Linked DNA regions of Homo sapiens. The protein of the gene in region 1 purifies or fractionates together with the protein of each later gene. This does not show direct contact. Each region holds a gene or a part of one and is shown in the gene's direction. Other genes may lie near its edges. The genes, in order: FRAT2, DACH1, TRPC4AP and RILPL2.

Region 1 (6,474 bases):
CCCCACCCACTCCTCACAACCACCAGCTTAACCAGCAACTGGAAACTCACCAGACAGCTTGTGTTTATGCTACCCTCACACCTCTGTCCTAGTGAAGAAACACACCTTTGGCTGGCAAGCTCTCCAGGAAAAAATTAATTTCATGTCATCTCCTTGAAACAAAGACCAACATTAATCCCAGATGGATTTGAAAAAAAAATCAAGGCATTTGAAAAATCTAAAGAAAATAGAATGGAATATTTAATAACTTTCTGGCAGCAAGGAGACTCCAAATTTAGCATCGTGTTAGAAATTTCAAAGAGATTTTAAAATTTGCCTACATGAAAATTTGGTTTTAGTGGGGGAAAAAATGACTGTACAGAGCCAACAAAAGCCTGGAGACGTATTTGCGGCAAAATATGAAAAGGGTTAACATTTGGTATGTAAAGGAGTCATGCAAATACGTAAGAAACACTCCCTAGGAAAATCTTATTAGGAAATAGACAATTCATAAGAAAGGAAGTACAGTTTGTTAACAAACATTTAGAAAACTGCTCTACCTAACTGAAATCAAAGATATGCAAACTGAAGGGAGAAAATTTCCCTATATAATCCGCAAAAAAAAAAAAATTCAATAATACTCAAATACTAGTGAAGGTGTAATGATGTATGCTCAAGCATTAATGATGGTAGAGTACATTTACCTAACTCTTGGAAAGACACTTCCTGAACATTTATCAGTAAACCTTAAAATACCCAACTACTGTGACTTAAAATTCCACTCCTGGGAATATGCCCTAAGGAAAGAATCATCAATATCTTAAAGTGTCGCGCACAAAAATGTTAGTTACACACTTAACGATGGTGAAATTAGGCAAATGTTAAAAACATAGGCACTTGATGGAAACTTATGTAATCATTAAAATGTTTTCAAAGTGCATGCAATAACACGAAAAACGTTTATGATGTAAGGCAAAGTGGAAAAGTGTGTAACACTGTATGCATGTGTTTGTATACTACACTTTCATAGAACAAAGGCTAAAAAGGAAAAAAATTTAAATGTGAACCATGAGAGATTTTTTCCATCCCTTATATTTTTCTTTTTTTTTTTGAGACGGAGTCTCGCTTTGTTGCCCAGGCTGGAGTGCAGTGGCGTGATCTCGGCTCACTGCAACCTCCGCCTCCAGGGTTCAAACCATTCTCCTGCCTCAGTCTCCCGAGTAGCTGGGATTACAGGCGCCCGCCACCACGCCCGGCTAATTTTTGTATTTTTAGCAGAGATGGGGTTTCACCATGTTGGCCAGACTGGTCTGGAACTCCTGACCTCAGGTGATCCGCCCGCCTCGGCCTCCCAAAGTGTTGGGATCACAGGCATGAGCCACCCACCGCTCCTGGCCAATCCCCTATATTTCTATTTGAACCTTAAAAAAAAAAAAAGACCCTTCTTTAGCCGAGCGGCGGTGAGTCCTATTCTCATGATATGTCCGGGGGCTTGAAGACTGCGGGAGGGAAAGCCTCTGGGACCTCACCTCAGAGCGATTCTGCTCTGCTTCAAAGCGTCCCCTCTTAGGCCGGGCGCGGCGGCTGACGCCAGTAACCCCAACACTTTCGGAGGCCGAGGAGCGAGGACTCCTTGAGCCCAAGAGTTCGAGACCAGCCTGGGCAATATAGTGAGACCCCCCCCCCCCACCACCGTCTCTACAAAAAAAATTTTTTTAATTAGCCAGGCGTGGTGGCCGCGCCTGTGGTCCCAGCTGCTCCGGAGGCTTAAAGTGGGATGATTACTTAAGCCAGAGTTCGAGGCTGCAGTCAGCCGTGTTCGCGCCACTATACTTCAGCCTGGGCGACAGAGACCTTTTCTAAATAATAAATAAGTAAATAAGTAACGTGCCGCCTCTTCACTCCCAATTCCCTCCGCCTTTCCCCGCCCCGCCTCGTCGAAGCCGGACCCGCGGCGGCCCGCCCCTCCCCCACGACCAGGGCCGGGAACTGCGGGTGCGCGGGGCGGGAGTCGGGCGGGCTTAGGCGCGGCCGACACGTGGGGAGGGAGGCCGCGGCCCAGGAGGCGGGCCCGGAGTGGGTGTGGGTGTGTCCGTGCGTGGGAGAAACCAACCTCAGCCTCCTCCGAGGCGCCACGTTTCAGCACGGCTCGTTGGGCCCGGGAGGTCGGAAATCAGTCCCCACGCCCCGGACCCCCTCCTGGAGGGACAACGAACACAGGCGCGGGACGGCTTCGGTCACCGCCCGCGCCGCCCTTTGCCCCCGTGCCTGCTCGCGCGTCACCCCCGCCCCGGTGCGGTGGTAGGGCCCGGCGCGACGTCACCCATTGTTTACAAATCAACCCGAGCCGGCAGGATTCCGGCTCCAGCGGCTGCAGGCGCGTGGCTCGAGTGCCTGGCGGGCTCCGGCTTCCGCGTCCGCCCCTGCTCCGGCTTCGCCCGCAGCTCCGCGCCCGCGGGCAACCAAGCCCCCAGCGAAGCCCGCACAGCTCCGGGTGCCAGGACGGGGGGCCATGCCGTGCCGGAGGGAGGAGGAAGAGGAAGCCGGCGAGGAGGCGGAGGGGGAGGAAGAGGAGGACGACAGCTTCCTCCTGCTGCAGCAGTCGGTGACGCTGGGCAGCTCGGGCGAGGTGGACCGGCTGGTGGCCCAGATCGGCGAGACGCTGCAGCTGGACGCGGCGCAGGACAGCCCGGCCTCGCCGTGCGCGCCCCCGGGGGTGCCGCTGCGGGCCCCGGGGCCCCTGGCTGCGGCGGTGCCGGCGGACAAGGCCCGGCCCCCGGCGGTGCCGCTGCTGCTGCCGCCCGCTTCGGCTGAGACGGTGGGCCCGGCGCCCTCTGGGGCCCTGCGCTGCGCCCTAGGGGACCGCGGCCGCGTGCGCGGACGCGCTGCGCCCTACTGCGTGGCGGAGGTCGCCGCAGGCCCCAGCGCGCTGCCGGGGCCGTGCCGGCGAGGATGGCTCAGGGACGCGGTCACCTCCCGCCGCTTGCAGCAGCGCCGATGGACCCAAGCCGGGGCACGCGCCGGCGACGACGACCCGCATCGGCTCCTCCAGCAGCTCGTGCTCTCGGGAAACCTCATCAAGGAAGCCGTGCGGAGACTCCAACGAGCCGTCGCCGCGGTTGCAGCCACGGGCCCCGCAAGCGCCCCTGGGCCCGGGGGAGGCCGCAGCGGACCTGACCGCATTGCCCTGCAGCCCTCAGGCTCCTTGCTCTGACGCAGGCCTCCTGGAGGAGGAAGTGGAGGCCGCTGCGTAGACCCAACAGCGTCCAGTTCCTACTAACTCTGAGCTGAAGCCGACGTCGCCAGCCTGGGAGCGACCACTTTGGCTGCGGGGAGGCGCGTGGGGAGAGATCTCAACCAGAGAAGTTACCAGCCGCGGCGAGGCCGTCGGAGAAAACTTAAGCGTGGAGAAATGTATGCGCCAGGGTGCTTCCGTGGGGCATGAGAATTTCCCGGGCCATCCAAGCCCAAGGACCTGGGATAAACTGGGAGAACTATGGCAGCTACTTGCATCGACTTGTACCTCACTTAGCCCTTGGGGGCGTCGTGAGCTTGGATTGTTTAAGGAGGGCTCAGGGGTAGGAATCGCGATGGCTTTATAACAATACTTGAAAACTAACGACACGCATACATTTTCTTATTTTCTGGTGGAGGAGCTTAGTAAGTGGTGCTACAATTGCTGTGCAAAGAAATTCCAGAGGGGAGAAGAATGTAAAAGTTTGGTGGTGGGTGGCTTGGCATTGCCCCTTTTTCCCACCGATTCGGTGGCTGGTGAAGGTGGGAGATGTGAACTCCAATTAAGGGACTGGAGAGAGGTGAAGAATTTTGCAGGTGGGAGATTTGGATTTGAATGTGGACTTGTAAATGACTTGACCTTGCCATCTGTGTTCAAGGTCACGGTTTGCTGTGGGGTTCCTGGGAGAGCTTACTCACCCCGGAGTCTTTTCTTTCTCTTGCTCCAAGAAGAGCCCTGTTGGTGCTTTACCACCGCTTGGAGTCTCCCGAGGACACAAACAGGCAGAGAGGGACGTGTAGGGAGAGTTCTTTCCTGTTTTCTGTGCTTTCCTTTTTACAGGACTCCCGGAAGGCCACTCATGGCCATGCCAGGAGCTTTCTCAGAAACAGTCATAAACGATCTCTTGAGTCTCTTTCTTGTCCTCCCAGCTGAGCTTTCTTATTCCACCCTTTCTGGTGTCTATAGGAATGCATGAGAGACCCTGGACGTTTTTCTGCTCTCTTCTGGCCCTCCATGGAGTCATGGGCCTCGGCCTCGGCGGCTCCTCACCCTCACAATTTATTTCCTCCTCCCGTGCCAGCCCTTCTTTTGTGTCTGAAACCGGTTTTAAAATGTGACTCTCCCAGAGAAGAAGCCGCTGGCTGTATGAAACTTGACGGCGCTTTTGTAAGGTGCCACCCCCAAACTTTAAGGTAGCTAAACCAATTTTTAAAAGATTCAATGGCTTGTTCATCCTCCAGATGTAGCTATTGATGTACACTTCGCAACGGAGTGTCTGAAATTGTGGTGGTCCTGATTTATAGGATTTCATAATTAAAATGTCTGCTGAATAAATTTGGCTTTTGTTTTGGAGCACGGTTTGGCATTTTGGTGGAAGGTGGGAGAGGGGCAGAAAAGCATATGGGGATGTCCTTAATAAAGAGGGCACTTGGGCTAAACCGGGGGGGGGGGACCTGGACAAATGGTTTGGGCCAATGCTGATGGGCACAGAATCCTAGTAGAGCCACAGGACTTGAGTGCTTCTAAGTTTTTATTCCACAAGATCAGAAAATTGAGTCCAGGTTTTTAGAAGCTGCAAGATGGGCTTCCACTCCCTTTGTGGAAAGACAATGTATTCTAGAAATGCTTTCTGGGCTGGAGAGCAAAGAGGTGCTGTGGTGGAGGGAGGTGGGTTTTCATCTGGACGTTTTTGTGCAAAATGGGGAGGGCACAGGCGAAGCCAGCCTGCTTTCCCCTTTGAGACTGACCTAGTCTTGAGCTATGGCCTTGGGAGAGAAAAACAGGGTTTTACAGCAGTGTATTTGGTAGTTGTAAAATGGCTTGGTTTGAGCACTCAGGGGTTAGATTTGACCGAAGTAGCCCTCCTCCTCTCCTCATTCTCTCTCTGCCCTGTCTTCCCAGGCATAGAGCCCTTGCTGAATCCCTTCCTAGTTCCTGCCTTGCCCTTTTCTCTTTTTAATTTAATTTTATTATTTTGAGATGGTGTCTTACTCTGTAACCCAGGTTGGAGTGCAGTGGCACGATCTTGGCTCACTGCAGCCTCAACCTCCTGGGCTCAAACAGTCCTCTCACCTCAACCTCCTGAGTAGCTGGGACTACAGGCTCATACCACCATGCCAGGCTAATTTTTTATATTTTTAGTAGAGATGGGTTCTCACTGTGTTGCCCAGGCTGGTCTTGAACTCGAGCTCAAGTGATCTGCCCTCCTCGGCCTCCCAAGGTGCTGGGATTAAAGGCGTGAGCCACCACACCTGGCCCCTGCCTTGCCCCTTCCTTGCCCAGCTCTACTAACCCAGCCCCCGGGGAACCTCTCCTGCTCAGCACACTCCCGAGGCTGGGGCTGCAGAGGAAGGCTGATGCTCAGTTGCCTCAGCCCTTTCTGCTCACCAGCTGTGTCATGGTGGGCAAGTCAAGACTCTGAGTTTTTCCCTTGTGATTTGTAAAACAATAGTACTTAATAGGGGAGTTGGAAGGGTTAAATGAGGACTTGAAGGGGAGACTTCATTGCTCAAAAAGTGATAGCTGCTCATTCTTGGTACTACCACATGGCTTTATGTGCCACGAGGTAGGCACTATTTTTCCATCTTATAGATAAGGACTACAGACAATGGGAAAAGACCTACAAGATCTGAGTGTTTCTCTACTTCCTAGGTAGAGATGGAGCTGATCCCTGTTAGGGCAGGCACCCTGGTTGGCACCTTTTACAAGATTTTTTTTTTTTTGAGATGGAATCTCGCTCTGTCGCCTGGCTAGAGTGCAGTGGTGTGATCTCAGCTCACTGCAGCCTCCCTCTCCTGGGTTCAAGTGATTCTCCTGCCTCAGCCTCCCGAGTAACTGGGACTACAGGAGCATGCCACCACACCCAGCTAATTTTTGTATATTTAGTAGAGACGGGGTTTTACCATGTTGGCCAGGATGGTCTCGATCTGACCTTGTGATCCGCCTACCTTGACCTCCCAAAGTGCTGGAATTACAGGCATGAGCCACGGCACCTGGCATTTTTTTTTTTTTAAGACGTGGTCTTGCTCTGTCCCCAGGCTGGAGTGCAGTGGCATGATCTTGGCTCACTGCAGCCTCCACCTCCTGGGTTCAAGCAATTCTCCTGCCTCAGCCTCCCAAGTAGCTGGGATTACAGGTGCCCGCCACCACTCCCAGCTAACTTTTGTATTTTTAGCAGAGATGAGGTTTCACCGTGTTGCCCTGGCTGGTCTCAAATTGCTAACCTCAAGTGATCCACCTGTCTTGGCCTCCCAAAGTGC
Region 2 (5,962 bases), on another chromosome or scaffold:
TTCGTTCTCTCTGTCCTGCTTCAGCCCCTTATTGGACGTTAAAGGGTATTACACAAATGAAATGATAAATCCAGTTTACATAGTTTTCTTATAGACATTGAACTGCTTCTTTCTTATTATGTCTGAATAAAACTCATTATCTATTTTGTTTCAGTAATAATTATGAGATTCCCTCCTAAGCAATTCTTTATTGTCTCCATTATTCTCCATCTTATAGAATACTCTGGAAAGGCAAGCATATAAATATGATAAAAGAATTAAGCTGTTGAAATAAATTAATTTATTGTGCAACAATGTATTCAAATCTTACTTGCTCAATGGATTTTACTTTAATGAAATTCTTCAAAGAACAATACATTAGGTTCCAAAGATTGAAATTATACATTAAGTAAAATGACTGAATATGTTGTGTCTCAATTTATAGAAAGTTTCAATTGAATAGTTAAGCTTTTAAATCATAAACACTTGCATAAATTAAAATATTTTCTTCAAATAACAGTATTAACTGTTGTTTTTGTATCCTTTGTTCTTGAACACAAAACTACAATTAAAGCAAAAACTAAGTTAAAGGTAAATTAAATACTATTATTTTACTTATACATATTTACTGAGCTTTATTATGCTTTTAAAATGCATTTTACATAAAGATTTCAATCTAATTTATTTTTACTTAGTATAATATGCCTTTTTAAGAGTATTTTGGATGTGTAAATGAGTAACTGAACAATTCATGAATTAAAGGGATGATCACAGACAACTTTGACATTTAAGTACATTGACTAATAAAGCATTTTTCTACTTATATGGGAAATGTTAAAATAAACAAGGAATTATTTTAATGGCATAATAATTGTTTCCAGAGATTTATGCATTAAATATTTAAGCATTTTATGAGTTAAATATCTCAGAAAAATTATATTCTCATGCTTTCCATTAGCACTACCAAGAAATCTATTATGACAGGAAAATCAGACTTGCAAAATCATTTTAGAGAGACTGATTTATTTCAAGATTGTACTTTATGTCTGTTCAGCCAAACATGCATTAACATAATGATTAAGAAAAATGTTAAAATTTATTGATAGATAAGCATTGATGTGAGTGAACTTTGGAATAAAATAGAATGGTTAATTTAGAAAATTCTCTTTATACAAAAATATATCAATGCATTTTCTTAAATACACACCATGTATTTCTGTGTAATCCAAGTGCTAACAGTTAGATGTATTAGGAATTAGCTCTAAAGCTTAGACAAACTATGCTTCTATTAGAATTTCAAGAAATCAAGATTAGACTTTAAGAGTATATCTCTGGACATGTATGCAGTTAGCTGCAGTATTGTTTCTTGATATATTTATACAAATTATAAAGGAGTTCTACATATAGCCTTATAAATGCATCCTCTATGATAAGTGCGCAAATACTCCAAAACCATACACAACTAAACTTTTGAATTATGGTGTGGCTAACACAAGCCAAGATTGTCTTTTGATTTGTGATTACAATGATTTGATATGAGAATATTGCCATTTGAAACTTCTTTATAGTTTAGGGTAATTATAATTAGAAGACAGGAAGTAAGTTTTGGCATCCAGATGTGAAGTTTCTGCTCTTTTAAGTCATATACATGTTTGTTTTTTAAAACTGTTGGTCGTTTGTTTGCCTTAGACGTTTTAGAAGCATACATGCTTCATTTTGTTAGCTTGGAAAAGTAACTGATAATATATTCGTTTTCCATGTTACCTGTGATAAAGATTTCAAAATATCTTAATCTGCAAACTGTAAAGTTGGATGCCATCTTTCTGTAGTATCCTAGCGTGTAACAAATGCATACATGTTATAAACGTCTCTGAACAAGTTAGTTTCAAATTTTAATATCTGGGATGTATGTTTGTCTTTGTCCCCCCTTGTTTTCTCTCTCCTCTTCCCATCTCTTCTCTCTGTCTCTTTCTCTTTCTCTCTCCCTCCCACTTATTTGCATATTTGCAGTATTTTAAGTGGAAACCCCACATAACTTGAGATGGAAAATATATTGTGTGTTGCTTACATTTACCTACATATCAGTTTTGCTATTTGCATAAAATAAAACACTTAATTGTTAACCCCGATCAATTAAGGTAAAGGGCTAATGCTTTTTAGTATAATACTAACAATACGTCTGCCTTCTGTGGGAGTTTATTGTCTTTTACAGAAGCCTATCAGCACATATTAGCTCTGTACAAAAACTCTTAAAGTTCAACAAGTTATCATTACGACAAGATTGTAATACGCATTGCAACTTTCGAGATTAAAATTTAATTGACCTCTTTTTTCTTTTCCTTTACAATATTGTTTTGTCATGAAGCTTCTTATAGCGCTTTTTTTTTTTAATTCCATGGAATATATGTTAGGAAACCATTTTATGACATGGATTTGGGAAAAGGGCTTGGCTATTTTTTCTGGTTATTTTCATTTTATTTGTCAGGGTCTTCAAAATGAAGTCTCAGCATATCTGTTGAAGATGTTTATTGGCAATGTACATCATTGAAAAATTAAAAGAGTGTGACAAAAGTACAGCTCAATCTTGGTTCCATATTAAAATCATAGGGAGAGCTTTTAAAAAGATACCGAAGTCTGGGTCCCATTTTAGACCTAGTGTATTAGATTTCTAGGGCCACTGTAACAAAGAACCAGAAACTGGGTACCTTAAAACCACAGAAATTTATTGTCTCTCATTATTGGAGTCTAGAAGTTCAAAATCAGGAGTTCATGAGGACCATGCTCCCTTTGAGATACTAGGTAGAATCCTTCGCTTTCTATAGCTTCTGGTAGCAGCTGGCAATCCTTGCCATTCCCTGGCTTGAAGCTGCACAAGTTTAATCTCTTCCTCTATGGTCACATGACATTCTTCCCTCCTATCTTCACATCTACTTGTAAGGACACGACTCACGTGGGATTAAAAGCCACCCTAATCCAGTATGTTCTCATCTTAACTAATTATGTCTGCAAAGACTCAGTTTTCAAGTACATTCATATTGATAGGGACCAAAGGTTAGGGCTTCAACAGATCTTTTTGGGGAACACAATTAAGCCATAATACTCAGTAAACCAGAATCTCTGGGAGTGAAACTCAAGCATAAGCGCATTTAAGAACATGCCAGGTGATTCTGATGTGCAGCAGGATTTCAAACCATCATGGTGCTAATGGAATCACTTTGACCAAAGATGAGCACGATCATCATTCTCACTGGCAGTACAAAACCTGGAACCTCCTATTTGTTTTCCGTATTAAGTTAACATTGACATTTTGGAAACATTAGCCTCCTACAGGCCAATTACATTTTAGATTTTTTTTCTCTATTTTGTAATTGCATATTTTCTCTCTAATAAGGAATAATGTACTAATTATTTATAAGTACATTATACATCTACATACTTTATATAGTTTTCTTCCACACTTTTAACTATTTATTATTACAAAGACAGTTCATCAAGGCCTGTGTCTGTTAATAACTGAGGGTATAAATATTTTGCTGCTCAAAGTAGAAAATGTTCACCAATGGGTACCTTCTTTCTTAATCTGTAATTCCATTTATAATAGCTAATTGGAGACATTTATAGAATCTACTTGCAGATTTGTCTAATGGAGAATGTACAGAGCTTAGAGAGGGAGGTGTGGAGAGAGACAAGACTGTTGACATAAAATAGAGTATCAGGAAGCACAGTACCAAATTTCCCTGGGACATGATTGATATATATTTCATAAATGTGCCCTTAATACAGTTGTGTGGTTGAATTGAAGCTAGGTGTGGTAGGTACTCTGAGAATTATTTAAACCAAAGAAAATTATTCCAATATTAAATAATAATCCATTTCCATGATGCCTGAAAATGTGACTGAGTATGTCCAGAGCAGTACTAGGATGGAATACCTGTTAAAAACTCCTCTGGTATTATTATTATGGTCAGTCATGTTGATAATGTGTTTATTACATGATCTTTAGATACTTGCAGAAATAAGGGAATATATTTAAAGATTTCTTCAAAATGATAAATAATCCTTCTTTATTCTCTGAGATCTTTGTTGTCTAATGGGTTCTTATTTGTTTATTTTTGGGCGTCTTCCTAGGGCTTACTTTTTCTCCAGAGTGGATTGACATTCGCCATTACTGCAGTCACGCTTACCTGTAGAACCATAGTTTCATAGACCATCTTTTTCTACTTTATTTGGCTTGCTCAAGATAAACATATCTTTTAGTACAGTTAAATGCTGATGAAGTAAAGTGTTTATTCTCTTTACATTTCTTATTGTATTGAGAAAAAACAACATTCATTAAGTAAAGATCCGTTGTATTTAACATCTTTTCTACCCTCCTTCCCTCTCTTGCTGGTGCAGGAGCGTGTTCCTGATAGCCCCTCACCTGCCCCCTCTCTGGAGGAGGGGAGAAGGCCTGGCAGTCACCCATCATCACATCGCAGCAGCAGCGTGTCCAGCTCCCCTGCTCGGACTGAGAGCTCTTCTGACAGAATCCGTAGGTCTCATACTTCTACTTGTCACCATTTTAAACTTTATTAGGGTTCAGCTGGATTTTCTAATCAACATGCCCTCATTCCAAATAGATCTCAGATGGATCATGTTCTGAAACTCTGTAGCAATAGCCATCTCTCAAAATTATGTTTCCCAGTTTGCAATATCATGAGGTATGATACTACATTAACAGGTCCTGATATAAATTTCCTCTCTTTGATGCCACATATAAAGATTTGAGCTATGAAACAGAGAAAATAAGTAACCGTTTAGATTGGTTTCTGAAGTAAACACAGCCAATTCTCAAATATCTAGTGTCTTGGTACACTGTTTATGGATTATTCAACATCATTCCTCAAATCCTACTCTGCCATTTTTGTAATTCACTGACTTTTAAATTTTATCCTTGTGTTAATGGAGATATCCACAAAGAGAAATCAGTTAAATTCAAAATACTAAACTTAAAAAGCATACATTTCTAAGTCATTCAGGTGGTCAATGGATTAAATAATTTGAAATTAGCTAAGTTTGAGAATTTGAATTAGTAACAATCAATAATGCATAGTATTGCCATATATTGTTATTTTTAAAATTTGGAAAGTAGGGCTGTGTGTTATTTTATAATATTTTCACAATATTTAATCTTGGTAGTTATGGCCAAGAAAATTAAGAATAAAGTTAAAATGCCATCCAATTAACAAGTGATTTTTGTGTCTGTACAATAATCTCAGATTGTTCTTTTGATAAATGACTATATTAAAAGAGAATAACTTGTTTGATAAAACCTATATATATTGCTTATTCCCAGAATTTAGCTATTATTTTATGCAATTATGTTTATAGCATACACTTCATCTAATTGTACAAAGTTTATTTAAGTTATTTGGTTGTCGAGAATATTTTCATAATAGGAAAGCATTTTCTAGAAAGTCACTTTATAGGTTATAAAGGAATGTATGCATAAAGTGAAAATTGTTGATCTGGGAGCTATTGAAGTGGATAATTTAAAGATTAAGTTGAATGCTGTGTAAATAATTATAAATAAAAGATAGTCAATTATTGGCAATTATATAGTTCAACATAATACTAAATATATATACTTGCTTTGGCCTGCCGGAAACGTATTTCCTTAATTTTGTAACTTTATATACAATTTTAAAACAGTTTTCAAATGAAATATTTACTGTATATTTTTATGGTATGTTGACACTAGAATCAGAAATTTAATGATAAATATTGGTTTCATTATAAGATATTGTCATTGGAAAGGTGCTGTCCTAGAGAAAAAAAAATTGGAACAAAATGAAAATGATGGACAGATGGGGGAAGATTTGAATGAGTTTTGTTATACATTCATGTTATTTTAGTAATGGTAATATTCTTTTTTCAATTTTTGATAGAAACAAAGGAGACATTTTTGTATGCCTGGGATACCATAATTGTTGAAATGGAAATA
Region 3 (5,962 bases), on another chromosome or scaffold:
GAGTCTAGAAGTGCTCCTTCACAACTTTTCCCACTTGCCTCTCACTCCCTCTCATTCCTTTTTGTGTACCCCAAAATGGCGAGGTGTTCCACCAAACATTATGGGTATCTTGGTGCAGTTTGAAAGGGGGATAGATACCATAAAGAAAGTGGAAACACCATAAACTGGGAAAAGACATTTGAATTCAGGTAACCAACAAAGGATTTGTTGTATTCAGAATTTATCAATAATTCTTACAGGCCAGGCACGGTGGCTCATGCCTGTAATTCCAACACTTTGGGAGGCTGAGGCAGGCAGATCTCTTGAGGTCAGGAGTTTGAGAACAGCCTGGCCATCATGGCAAAACCCAGTCTCATTTTGTACTAAAAAATACAAAAATTAGCCAGGCATGGTGGTGCACACCTGTAGTCCCAGCTACTTGGGAGGCTAAGGCATGAGAATTGCTTGAACCCGGGAGGCAGAGGTTGCAGTGAGCCAAGATTATGTCACTGCACTCCAGCCTGGGCAACAGAGCAAGACTCCCTCTCAAAAAAAAAAAAAAAAACAGAATTCTTACAAATCAGCATGAAAAAGAGAAATAGCCCAGTAGACAAATGGGCAATGTTATGAACAAGCATTTCACAGACAAGAAAGAAATGGTCCATAAACATAAAAGAGAAGATGTTTAACTTGATTGGCAATCAAGGAAATGCAAATCAATACCATAGTGAGGGAGAGAGTGGGCAAATGTTGGTGAGTGTGTGTATCAGTGGAAACACTTGTATACTACTGATAAATGTTTATCAGCAGAATATCCTCTTTTTTTTTGTTTTGTAGTTGAACAGGCACATATCTTGTGCCCCAGCACCTAGGGAAGCTTTACCCTGAGGGCTGAGGCATCAGTATTTTGCCATGGGTTACCTATAACCTGTGCCTGGACACACTTGTGGGGAAGCTCAGTCCTAGAACAGTGATTCTTAGGATTGAAACCCAGAAGGTTGTAAAGTCAGTCCATCGGGTCTACCAGCCAAGTAGAAAAGATCAAACTGTATTGTGTAAGGGTATTTTTTGAATAAGTTTTTGTTTGACATTTCTATATACATTCCAATATGTATGTTTACTGGTGGTCGTTCTTGGTGATAGCTAAAAAGTTTAGAAGCCACTGCCCCAGCAAAAACTTCTCCACCTGTGCATCAAGAAACACATAAGAACATTTGTAGCTTCGTTGTTTCAGAACAAAAAACTGAAACCAAGTCTCTGATCCATGAATAGGAGAAGGGATGAATGTACTTTCTTCACACAATGGAATATTATATAGTAGAAATGAATGAACTGTTGCCATAGGCAACAACATAGCTGAGTAATTGAAATAATCGAGTGGTAGAAGCCAGTTGCAGAACACTGTAGGTAGTATATCATTTTCATAAAGCTCAAAAAAGCAAATTATTTGTTGATAAAACTAGTTTTTAAATGGCAAGGCAATAATAATTAATGATGGTGGTTCCCAGAGGCAGAGAGATGCAATAGGAAAGGCACACACAGCTAGTCATTTTGTTGTGCTGCATAATACGTATTGTACATATCAAAAATTAAAACATAAGAAGTAAATTCTTGGCCAGCCACAGTGGCTCTCATGCCTGTAATCCCAGCACTTTGTGAGGCCGAGGTGGGCAGATCACTTGAGGTCAGGAGACCAGCCTGGCCAACAGGGTGAAACCCTGTCTCTACTAAAAATATAAAAATTAGCCCAGCATGGTGGTGCATGCCTGTAGTCCCAGCTACTTGGGAGGCTGGGACAGAAAAATTGCTTGAACCCAGGAGGCAGAGGTTGCAGTGAGCAGAGATTGTGCCATTGCGCTCTGGCCTGGGCATCACAGTGAGACTCCGCCTTAAAAAAAAAAATCTTAAAATTTAAGACAAAACAAAAAACCATAAGAAGTGGGCTGGGGGTGGTGGGACCTGTTTTGGGAACCATATACTGAGTTAGACAGGGCTAGAGGAACTGGTGAGCTACAAGTTACAGTTGCCAATAATAGTAGTAGCTTACATTTGTTTTGTACTAGGGAAAAGGAAAAGTGGAAGCAGTTGTTCCCCAATGCCCCCTGCACAGCAAATTCCTGTCCTCCATTACTAGAAATAGAGGCGAGTATGGGATTCATGAGAGCTTCTAGGAATCATGCACTCGTTTTGGGCACATTCACTGATACCCTTGCTACCAGGTCCTGTGCATTGAGTCTCAGGAGAAAGGGTAGGATATATGCCTTCATCAAAGTATGGTCAGATTATTTGGGAAATAGATGCAGGAACAGATTATTAAAAGTTCATGTGATCTGTGCAGTGAAAGAGAAACACCCAATCCAGTGGAAGTAAATTAGTGGGATGAAGGATAGCAGGTGTTATCTGAGTAGCACGGGGATGGTTCAAAATGAGAAAAGTTGATGTAGTACATGCCATTTACAGATTTTAAGGAGTAATGAGTGAGAATAGAACCAAATAGCACAAGGCATTCCATAAAATTATCATTCTTAATAAAAGCTAGCAATAGAAGGAAAACTTATAAACTATATATAGGGTATTTATTAAAATTTAACTTATAGGATATTAAAATTTACAGCAAATATTGAACTTAATTTTAATGTTTTGGAATTATTTCTGGTAAAGTCAAGAAAAAGACAAGAATTCTTGCTCTCACTCTGGATAAATGGTCACATACATGTGTACACAGAGAGTACCTGTAAGAATGTTCATTGCAACATTGTTTAATAGTGAAAAACTGTAGTTTACCTAAATATGTATTAAAAGAAGAAAGGGTCAGGCACAGTGGCTCATACATGTAATCCCAGCAGTTTAGGAGGCCAAGGTGGGAGGATTGCTTGAGTCCAGGAGTTCCAGCCTGGGCAACAATAGTGAGACCCTGTCTCCATAAAAATAAAGTATTGGCCAGGCGTGGTAGCTCACGCTTGTAATCCCAGCACTTTGGGAGGCCAAGGTGGATGGATCATCTGAGGTCAGGAGTTCAAGACCAGCCTGGCCAACATGGTGAAACCCCATCTCTACTAAAAAATACAAAAATTAGCCAGGCGTGGTGGCGGGCGCCTGTAATCCCCACTACTTGGGAGGCTGAGGCAGGAGAATCACTTGAACCCAGGAGGTGGAGTTTGCAGTGAGTCAAGATTGCGCCACTGCACTCCAGCCTGGGCGACAATGAGATACCATCTCAAAAAAAAAAATATTAAAAAAGTAGCCAGGTGTAATGACACGCACCTGTAGTCCTAGCTACTTGGGAAGCTGAGGTAGGAGGATTGCTTGGGCCTAGGAGTTTGAGTCTGCAGTAAGCTATGATGACACTACTGCTCCGCAGCTTGAGCAACAGAGTGAGACCCTGTCTCTTAAAAGAGAGAGATGATTAAACTGTGGGGTAAAACGGCGGGAAGTGATTGAATCAGCTGCTTGTATCAGTGTAGATAAACTTCAAAATGTTGGATGAAAAGTAAGGTATAGTATGGTATCATTCACACTGTGCATGCAGAGCAGTAACATGTATTTTAATGGAAATATTTGTAAGTATAAAAACATGCACGGGAATAATAAACACAGAGTTCAAAATAATGTTTACGTCTGCAGGGAGAGAAAAAAATGCGACTGGATGGGGGATACACAGAGGCCTTTAGCTATATTTGAAGTATTTTATTTTTTAAAAAAGCAAATCTGTAGCAAGAATGGTAATTTATGATTTCCAAAACTTGAGTGGTAGGCATTTCCTTTTTTTTTAAATAGGCAAAATATACCACAAGAACAATTGAAAACAGTGGTGCTCAAAAGGTAAATTTAGTCCTCAGACTAATCCTGTGAGGTAGATTAGTTCCGTTTTACAGATAAACAAGCAAAGACTCGAAAGGTTTTTGTAACTTAACCAAAGTTTCAGAGCTGCAAGTTACAGAGCTGGGATAGGAACCTAAGTGATCTAGCCACTAAGCCCCGTATGTAAGGGGATGCGAAAGAGAGGCACATCCAATCTCTTGAGTGAATTGAGCATGGGGATTGTTTCATTTTTGTCTTCTGTAGGAAATGATCCGACTAGATGAAGTCCCCAATCTGAGTTCCTTAGTATCCAATTTCGATCAGCAGCAGCTCGCTAATTTCTGCCGGATTCTGGCTGTCACCATTTCAGAGATGGATACAGGGAATGATGACAAGCACACGCTTCTTGCCAAAAATGCTCAACAGAAGAAGAGCTTGAGTTTGGGGCCTTCTGCAGCTGAAATCAATCAAGGTAAAGTCTCCAAGTTCTCAGAATTTTGAGATTATAGCTCTGAGGCCCTTACTAAATCATCTAGTTTTTTTTCTTTTTCTTTTCTTTTCTTTTTTTTTTTTTTTCCTTTTTTGAGATGGGATCGTCACTATGTCACCCAGGCAGGAGTGCAGTGGCACAATCGTGGCTCACTGCAGCCTTGACCTCCCCAGGCTCAGGTGATCCTCCCACCTCAGCCACCTGAGTAGCTGGAACTATAGGCAGGTGCCACCACACCGGGCTAATTTTTGTATTTTTTGTAGAGATGGGGTTTCGCCATGTTGCCCAGGCTGGTCTTGACTTCCTGGTCTCAAGTGATCCACCCACCTCATCTTCCCGAAGTGCTAGAATTACAGGTGTGAGCCACCACACCTAGCACCCCTTTTAAATATCTCTAGAGATGGATCCATGTGAAGGCTCCTAGTATGTAAATTTTGTGTATCTGTTCATTATTTTGGGAACTGAGTTCCATACCTTTCATTAGATTTGTTAATGGGCTCAGAACCACAAAAAAAGTTAAGAACTACTTTTTATCAGAATTACAAATGCATATACTTTTTGATCTACTAAGTCTCTCCTGGGCCTTCATTTTATAGATAATGATGTATAGACACTAATCTCCTCTTGTCTGCAGTTTCACTTTCTGTGGTTTCAGTTATCCGTGGTCAACTGCAATCCGAAAATATTAACTGAAAAATTCCAGAGAGAGACCACATTCGTATAACTCTTATTACAGCATCTTGTTACAATTGTTCTATTTTATCATTAGTTATTGTTAATCTCTTAGTGTACCTAATTTATAAATTAAGCTTTATCATAGTTATGTGTGTATATAAGAAAAAACATAGTATATATAGGGTTTGGTGCTATCTGCCATTTCAGGTATCCACTGTGAGGGTCTTGACTAAGGGAGGACTACTGTACAAGATTATTCACTGAGGCCAGGCACGGTGGCTTAACGCCTGTAATCCCAGCACTTTGGGAGGCCGAGGCAGGAGGATCACTTGAGGTTCAGAGTTTGAGACCAGCCTGGCCAACATGGCGAAACCCCATCTCTACTAAAAATACAAAAATTAGCTGGGTGTGGTGGTGCACGCCTGTAGTCCCAGTTACTCAGAAGGCTGAGGCAGGATAATTGCTTGAACCCAGGAGGCAGAGGTTGCTGTGAGCCCAGATTGCACCACTGCACTTCAGCCTGGGCGACATAATTAGACTCCGTCTCAAAAAAAAAAAAAAAAATTATTCATTGCAACATTATTTGTAATAACAAAAGACTAGAAACCCAGATGTTCATTAACACTGGACTGCTTAGTGTATTCAATATTTATATAATGGAAAATTGTGTAGCTTTGAAAAAATGAAGATCTCTATGTACTGCTATAGAAAAATCTCCAAGATATATTAATGATAAAGAGGAAAATACAGAACAGTGTGTATATGGTATAGTTTTTGTATTAAGTCAGGGGGAGAATAAGACCATACGTTTGCCCACATATATGGTATGCCTAAAGAAACAAAGGGTACACAAGAAACATAAAGTGGTTATTAATAGGAAGTAGCTGGTAAGGGAAGGTAGTAGCAGTGGGAGTGGGACTCCTTACTGTATACTTTCATATATTGTTTGATTTTAGAACCGTGTAAATATATTACTTAAAAACAAAACACTATTCTAACCAATCTAGCCCACCTATT
Region 4 (5,962 bases), on another chromosome or scaffold:
TTTCCTTCTCCTACTGGAATATAAATTACGTGAGAGAATATATTTTGTCTATTTTGTTCAGAGACAAAACAGTTCAGAGACAAAATATTTATTAACCACAGTAGGTAGCTTAATAAATATTTGTTGAATGTTAAGCACTATGTATCATCTTAGATAATCTCTCAATCCTTTGAGGTAGGTACTATTATTAGACTCATTTTATAGGTTAGGAAACCAAGGCTTAAGTTAGAGAATTTATACACAATCATATTCCTAGAAAACTGAGAAGCTTGAAGCAGTAGCCAATGCAATTAGGTAAGAGAAAGAAACAAGAGGGTCAGGCACGGTGGCTCACACCTGTAATCCCAGCACTTTGGGAGGCTGAGGCGGGCAGATCACTGGGTCAGGAGATTGAGACCATCCTGGCTAACACAGTGAAACCCTGTCTCTACTAAAAATACAAAAAATGAGCCGGGTGTGGTGGCGGGCGCCTATAGTCCCAGCTACTCGGGGGGCTGAGGCAAGAGAATGGCGGGAACCTGGGAGGCGGAGCTTGCAGTGAGCCGAGATCGCGCCACTGCACTCCAGCCTGGGCAACAGAGCGAGAATCCGTCTCAAAAAAAAAAAAGAAACGAGGCATCACATTGGAAAGGTACAGGGAAGATTCTAATTTTAAACAGAATTTCTCTGACTCTAGTGCTTTCAACCGTAATATTACCATAATCATCATCATCATCATTAAGACCCTTTATTTTCAGAGCTGCACAGATAAGAGGTCTGTAATAAAAGCCAGGCTCAGTGGTTCATGCCTGTAATCCCAGCACTTTGGGAGTCTGAGGCAGATGGATCACTTGAGGTCAAGAGTTTGAGACCAGCCTGGGCAACACGGTGAAGCCCATCTCTACTAAAAATACAAAAATTAGCCGAGCATGGTGGCAGGCGCCTGTAGTCCTAGCTATTCAGGAGGCAGAGGCAGGAGAATCACTTGAACCCGGGAGGCGGAGGTTGCAGTGAGCTGAGATGGCGCCACTGCACTCTAGCCTGGGCAACAGAGAAAGACTCCAACTCAAAAAAAAAAAAAAAACGATCTGTAATAAAATAATCCATTTATTTTTTGTCCCGTTTCCCAGTGGCCTGATTCCACCAAGAGAAGGCCCAGGAGGAAGAAGAGAAAAAGATGCTGTGGTTACTAGTGCCAAAAATGCTGGCAGGAACAAGGAGGAGAAGACAATCATAAAAAAGCTGTAAGTGTCACCTTGCTGCCCCCCGGTCCCGCCAAATAATAACTCAAGGAAGTAGTCGGGGGCAAGAAGAGGCTGACCAGCTGCCCAGGGCAGGGAGGGCCTCTACTCTCCCGGTTGTGGTGCTGCAGCCCATGGGAAAACTCAATGCCAGTGTATTATAATGATATCTGCCAGGCAGTAGCCTAGGCACTTGGCATATATTAATTCATCGAATCATCACAGTGACCCTGCAAGGTAGATACTATTTTACAGATGGAGAAATAGCTACTGAGAGGTAAGGTAACTTGCCCAAGGTCTCACAGAGGGTAAATAGTGAAGTCAGGAACCCAAGGAAGTCTGGCTTCTACACTCCACTGCCTCCCTGTGATGTTTGACCAGGCTGGGTGCAATGGCTCACACCTGTAATCTCAACAGTGATTACAGGAGGCTGAGGCAAGAGATTCATTTGAAGCCAGGAGTTTGAGACTAGCCTGGGCAACAAAGTGAGACCCCATGTCAATGAAAAAACATCGTTTTGTTTTTTGTTTTGAGACAAAGTCTCACTCTGTCGCCTAGGCTGGAGTGCAGTGGTGCAATCTCGGATCACTGCAACCTCTGCCTCCCAGGTTCAAGCAGTTCTCCTGCCTCAGCCTACTGAGTAGCTGGGATTACAGGCATGCGCCACCATGCCTGGCTAATTTTTGTATTTTTGGTAGAGATGGGGTTTCACCATGTTGGACAGGCTGGTCTTGAACTCCTCGTGACCAACCTGCCTCAGCCTCCCAAAGTGCTGGGATTACAGGCATGAGCCACTGCGCCTGGCCAATTTTTTTTTTTTTAATTAGCTGGTATCATTTGTCGGCCTTTTAGCTGAGATCAAGTGAAATTAGCTGGGCGTGGTGGCCTGCACCTGTGGTCCCAGCTACTCAGGAGGATGAGACTGGAGGATTACTTAAGCCCAGGAGTTCAAGGCTGCAGTAAACTATTATCACTATTATCACGCTACTGCACTCCAGCCTGGGTAACAGAGCGTGACCCTATCTCAAAAAAAAAAAAAAAGAGAGAGAAAGAAAGAAAACAAAAATGATAATAGCGATGACCAGGCACGGTGGCTTACTCCTGTAATCCCAGCACTTTGGGAGGCTGAGGCGGGCAGATCACCTGAGGTCAGGAGTTCGAGACCAGCCTGGCCAACATGGCAAAACCTCGTCTCTACTAAAAATCCAAAAATTAGCCGGGCGTGATGGCAGATGCCTGTAATCCCACCTATTCGGGAGGCTGAGGCAGGAGAATCGCTTGAGCCCGGGAGGTGGAGGTTGCAGTGAGCCGAGATTGTGCCACTGCACTCTAGCCTGGGCAACAGAGCGAGACTCAAAAAAAAAAAAAAAAAAAAGGAATAACCCAGGCCTTCTTTCTCAGGGACAGGACCTTGAGGAGCTTGGAAGGGAGCAGGGGCAGAGGGCAAGGGGCAGGAGCACAGGGGAGAATACCTCTGGCCCAGCAGGAAAAAACCAAAGGAAGAGGCAGTCAGGCATGTAGCTTCCAGAGAGCAAAGTCATGGTTCTTCCTCTGGGGGCAGTGGTTCATGTGAGCTCAGTATGGTGGGCAGGGAAATAGCAGTTTTCTTCCCAATATTACTCAGAGGCTGTTGGGTTTAATTTGATGAGATGAAGTAGGACTGGGGAAAGGGAAAGATAATTCCCCATACCTTAAGATTCGCCATAGCTAAGCCAGATGCAGTGGCTTACACCTGTAATCCCAGTACTTCCGAGGTGGGTGGATCATTTGAGGTCATGAGTTCGAGACCAGCCTGGCCAACATGGTGAAACCCTGACTCTATTAAAAAATACAAAAATGAGCTGGGTGGTAGTGGCGTTCGCCTTAATCTCAGCTACTCAGGAAGCTGAAGCAGGAGAATCACTTGAGCTTGGGAGGCGGAGGTTGAGGTGAGCCGAGATGGTGCCACTGCACTCCAGTCTGAGCAACAGAGTGAGACCCTGTCTCAAAAAAAAAAAAAAAAAGATTTAACATAGCTCCCACTTAGTGAGCATTTGCTATGTGCCAGACACTGAGCTGAGTAAACATCTACTCAGGAGATCTGTTTTACAGACGGGCAAACTGAGAGTCAGAGAGGATCAATGACCTGCAAAGGTTACACAGCGGGTCAGTGGTGGTGGAACTCAGACCTGAAGCCGCATCTATTTACCTCCTAAGTGCATTCGCCCCTAATCTTGGGCTACATGGAATCTACGGCAGGGAAAACACCTTTCCAGAATGTTTCCTGCTGCACATGGTGATGCTCAGGAAATGGAATCAAGAGTCAAACTCGACCGGGCGCAGTGGCTGACGCCTGTAAACCCAGCACTTCGGGAGGCTGAGGTGGGAGGATCACCTGAGGTCAGGAGTTCGAGACCAGCCTAGCCAACATGGTGAAGCCCCGTCTCTACTAAAAATACAAAAATTAGCCGGGCATGGTGGCGGGTGCCTGTAATCCCAGCTACTCGGGAGGCTGAGGCAGGAGAATCGCCTGAGCCCAGGAGGCAGAGGTTGCAGTGAACTGAGATTGCACCACTGCACTCCAGCCTGGGCAACAAAACGAGACTCTGTCTCAAAAAAAATAAAAATAGGCCGGGCACAGTGGCTTACGCCTGTAATCCCAAGACTTTGGGAGGCCGAGGTGGGCGGATCACCAAGCCAAGAGATCAAGATCATCCTGGCCAACATGGTGAAACCCCGTCTCTGCCAGGCGCAGTGGCTCAGGCCTGTAATCCCAGCACTTTGGGAGGCCGAGGCGGGAGGATCACGAGGTCAGGAGATCGAGACCATCCTGGCTAACATGGTGAAACCACGTCTCTACTAAAAATACAAAAAAATTAGCCAGGCATGGTGGCAGGCTCCTTTAATCCCAGCTACTCAGGAGGCTGAGGCAGGAGAATGGCATGAACCCAGGAGGCGGATGTTGCAGTGAGCCAAGATCACACCACTGCACTCCAGCCTGGGCAACAGAGCAAGACTCTGTCTCAAAAAAAAAAAAAAAAAAAAGAAACCCCGTCTCTACTAAAAATACAAAAATTAGCTGGGTGTGGTGGCGTGTACCTATAGTCCCAGCTACTTGGGAGGCTGAGGCAGGAGAATCGCTTTAACCTGGGAGGCTGAGGCAGGAGAATCGCTTTAACCTGGGAGGCAGAGGTTGCAGTGAGCCAAGATCGCACCACTGCACTCCAGCCTGGGCGACAGAATGAGACTGTGTCTGAAAAAAAATAAATAGATAAAAATAAAAATTAAATAAATAAAAATACAAAATTAGCCATGGCCTCTGTAATTTCAGCTACTCGGGAGGCTGAAGTAGAATAATCACTTGAACCTGGGAGGAGGATATTGCAGTGAGCTGAGATCACACCCCTGCACTCCAGCCTGGGCAATAGAGCAAGACTCCATCTCAAAAAAAAAAAAAAAAAGAAAAAAGGGAGTCAATATCCTCTTGATAACCAGAATAGAACTGGAGCAACAGGCAGTTTCAGCCTGGCTGTGGGAAATGCCCAAGGACCTCTCCCTGTCCCACGTGGGACCATTCCTCTTGAATGAGCCGTGTCCCAGCATTGGAACATGCTATGCACTTTCCTCTGAATACTTCCCTCATGTCTGTGCACCAGGGTTGATCCCATAGTTCTTCGGATGCTGCCTCTTATACTAAGAGTGAGGTGCTTGTGTAAAATTCAGATTCTCAGAAATCAAGTCAGTAGGCCGGGCGCAGTAGCTCACACCTGTAATCCCAGCACTTTGGGAGGCCGAGGCGGGCAGATCACAAGGTCAGGATATGGAGACCATCCTGGCTGACCATCCTGGCTAACATGGTGAAACCCCATCTCCACTAAAAATACAAAAAATTAGCCGGGCATGGTAGTGGGCGCCTGTATTCCCAGCTACTCGGGAGGCTGAGGCAGGAGAATGGCGTGAACCCAGCAGGCAGAGCTTGCAGTGAGCCGAGATCGTGCCACTGCACTCCAGCCTGAGTGACAGAGCGAGACTCCGTCTCAAAAAAAAAAAAAGCCGGGCGCAGTGGGTCACACCTATAATCTCAGCACTTTTGGAGGCTGAGGCGGGCAGATCACAAGGTCAGAAGATTGAGACCATCCTGGCCAACATGGTGAAACCCCAAGCCTGTAGTCCCAGCTACTCAAGAGGCTGAGGCAAGAGAATTGCTTGAACCCGGGAGGCAGAGGTTGTAGTGAGCTGAGATTGCGCCACTGCACTCCAGCCTAGCAACAGAGCAAGACTCTGTCTCAAAAAAAAAAAAAAAAAAAAAAAGAAAGAAAAAGAAAAAGAAATCAAGTCAGTGGTTCTTGGATGAAGCTCAGAAATCTGGATTTTTTTCAAAAGTTCCTTGGACCACACTGATATGTGCCCTCTTAGTTGCCAGGTGTCAGGACAGTAGGCTGCAGCTTTCCTGTACTCCATTCATTCAACAAATATTTACTGAGGGTCTGCCATGTGCCAGGCACTGTTGTAGGTGCTGAAGATACAGCAGTGAACAGAACCTAAAGTCTCTGGCTCGTGGACCTTACATTCTAGTAGAGGGAGTCAGAGAGTGAACAGGTAAAGAAATATATTAACAGGACAATTTCAGATAGCTATATGTGCTATGATCACAAATAAGGGGACAGAACGGGAGAGAGAGGACTACTTTAGATTTGGGTTATCTTTTATCACAGCAGTGGGAAAAAAAACACAAGAAAATCGAGTTGGGAAGTCCTGGAAGG

Evidence for each region.
Region 2: the proteins of FRAT2 (region 1) and DACH1 purify together in Homo sapiens (affinity purification with mass spectrometry; one large-scale study listed by BioGRID and IntAct). This does not show direct contact.
Region 3: the proteins of FRAT2 (region 1) and TRPC4AP purify together in Homo sapiens (affinity purification with mass spectrometry; one large-scale study listed by BioGRID and IntAct). This does not show direct contact.
Region 4: the proteins of FRAT2 (region 1) and RILPL2 purify together in Homo sapiens (affinity purification with mass spectrometry; one large-scale study listed by BioGRID and IntAct). This does not show direct contact.

Annotation. Positions count from the first base shown.
Region 1 is NC_000010.11:97,330,590-97,337,063, reverse strand, and holds FRAT2 (GSK-3-binding protein FRAT2), read left to right. Parts: upstream 1-2,334; 5' UTR 2,335-2,491; coding exon 2,492-3,193; 3' UTR 3,194-4,567; downstream 4,568-6,474. UniProt on the Homo sapiens protein: Positively regulates the Wnt signaling pathway by stabilizing beta-catenin through the association with GSK-3.
Region 2 is NC_000013.11:71,558,368-71,564,329, reverse strand, and holds part of DACH1 (dachshund homolog 1), read left to right. Parts: intron 1-4,374; coding exon 4,375-4,510; intron 4,511-5,962. UniProt on the Homo sapiens protein: Transcription factor that is involved in regulation of organogenesis. Seems to be a regulator of SIX1, SIX6 and probably SIX5.
Region 3 is NC_000020.11:35,042,795-35,048,756, reverse strand, and holds part of TRPC4AP (short transient receptor potential channel 4-associated protein), read left to right. Parts: intron 1-4,044; coding exon 4,045-4,252; intron 4,253-5,962. UniProt on the Homo sapiens protein: Substrate-recognition component of a DCX (DDB1-CUL4-X-box) E3 ubiquitin-protein ligase complex required for cell cycle control.
Region 4 is NC_000012.12:123,418,305-123,424,266, reverse strand, and holds part of RILPL2 (RILP-like protein 2), read left to right. Parts: intron 1-1,109; coding exon 1,110-1,223; intron 1,224-5,962. UniProt on the Homo sapiens protein: Involved in cell shape and neuronal morphogenesis, positively regulating the establishment and maintenance of dendritic spines. Plays a role in cellular protein transport, including protein transport away from primary cilia.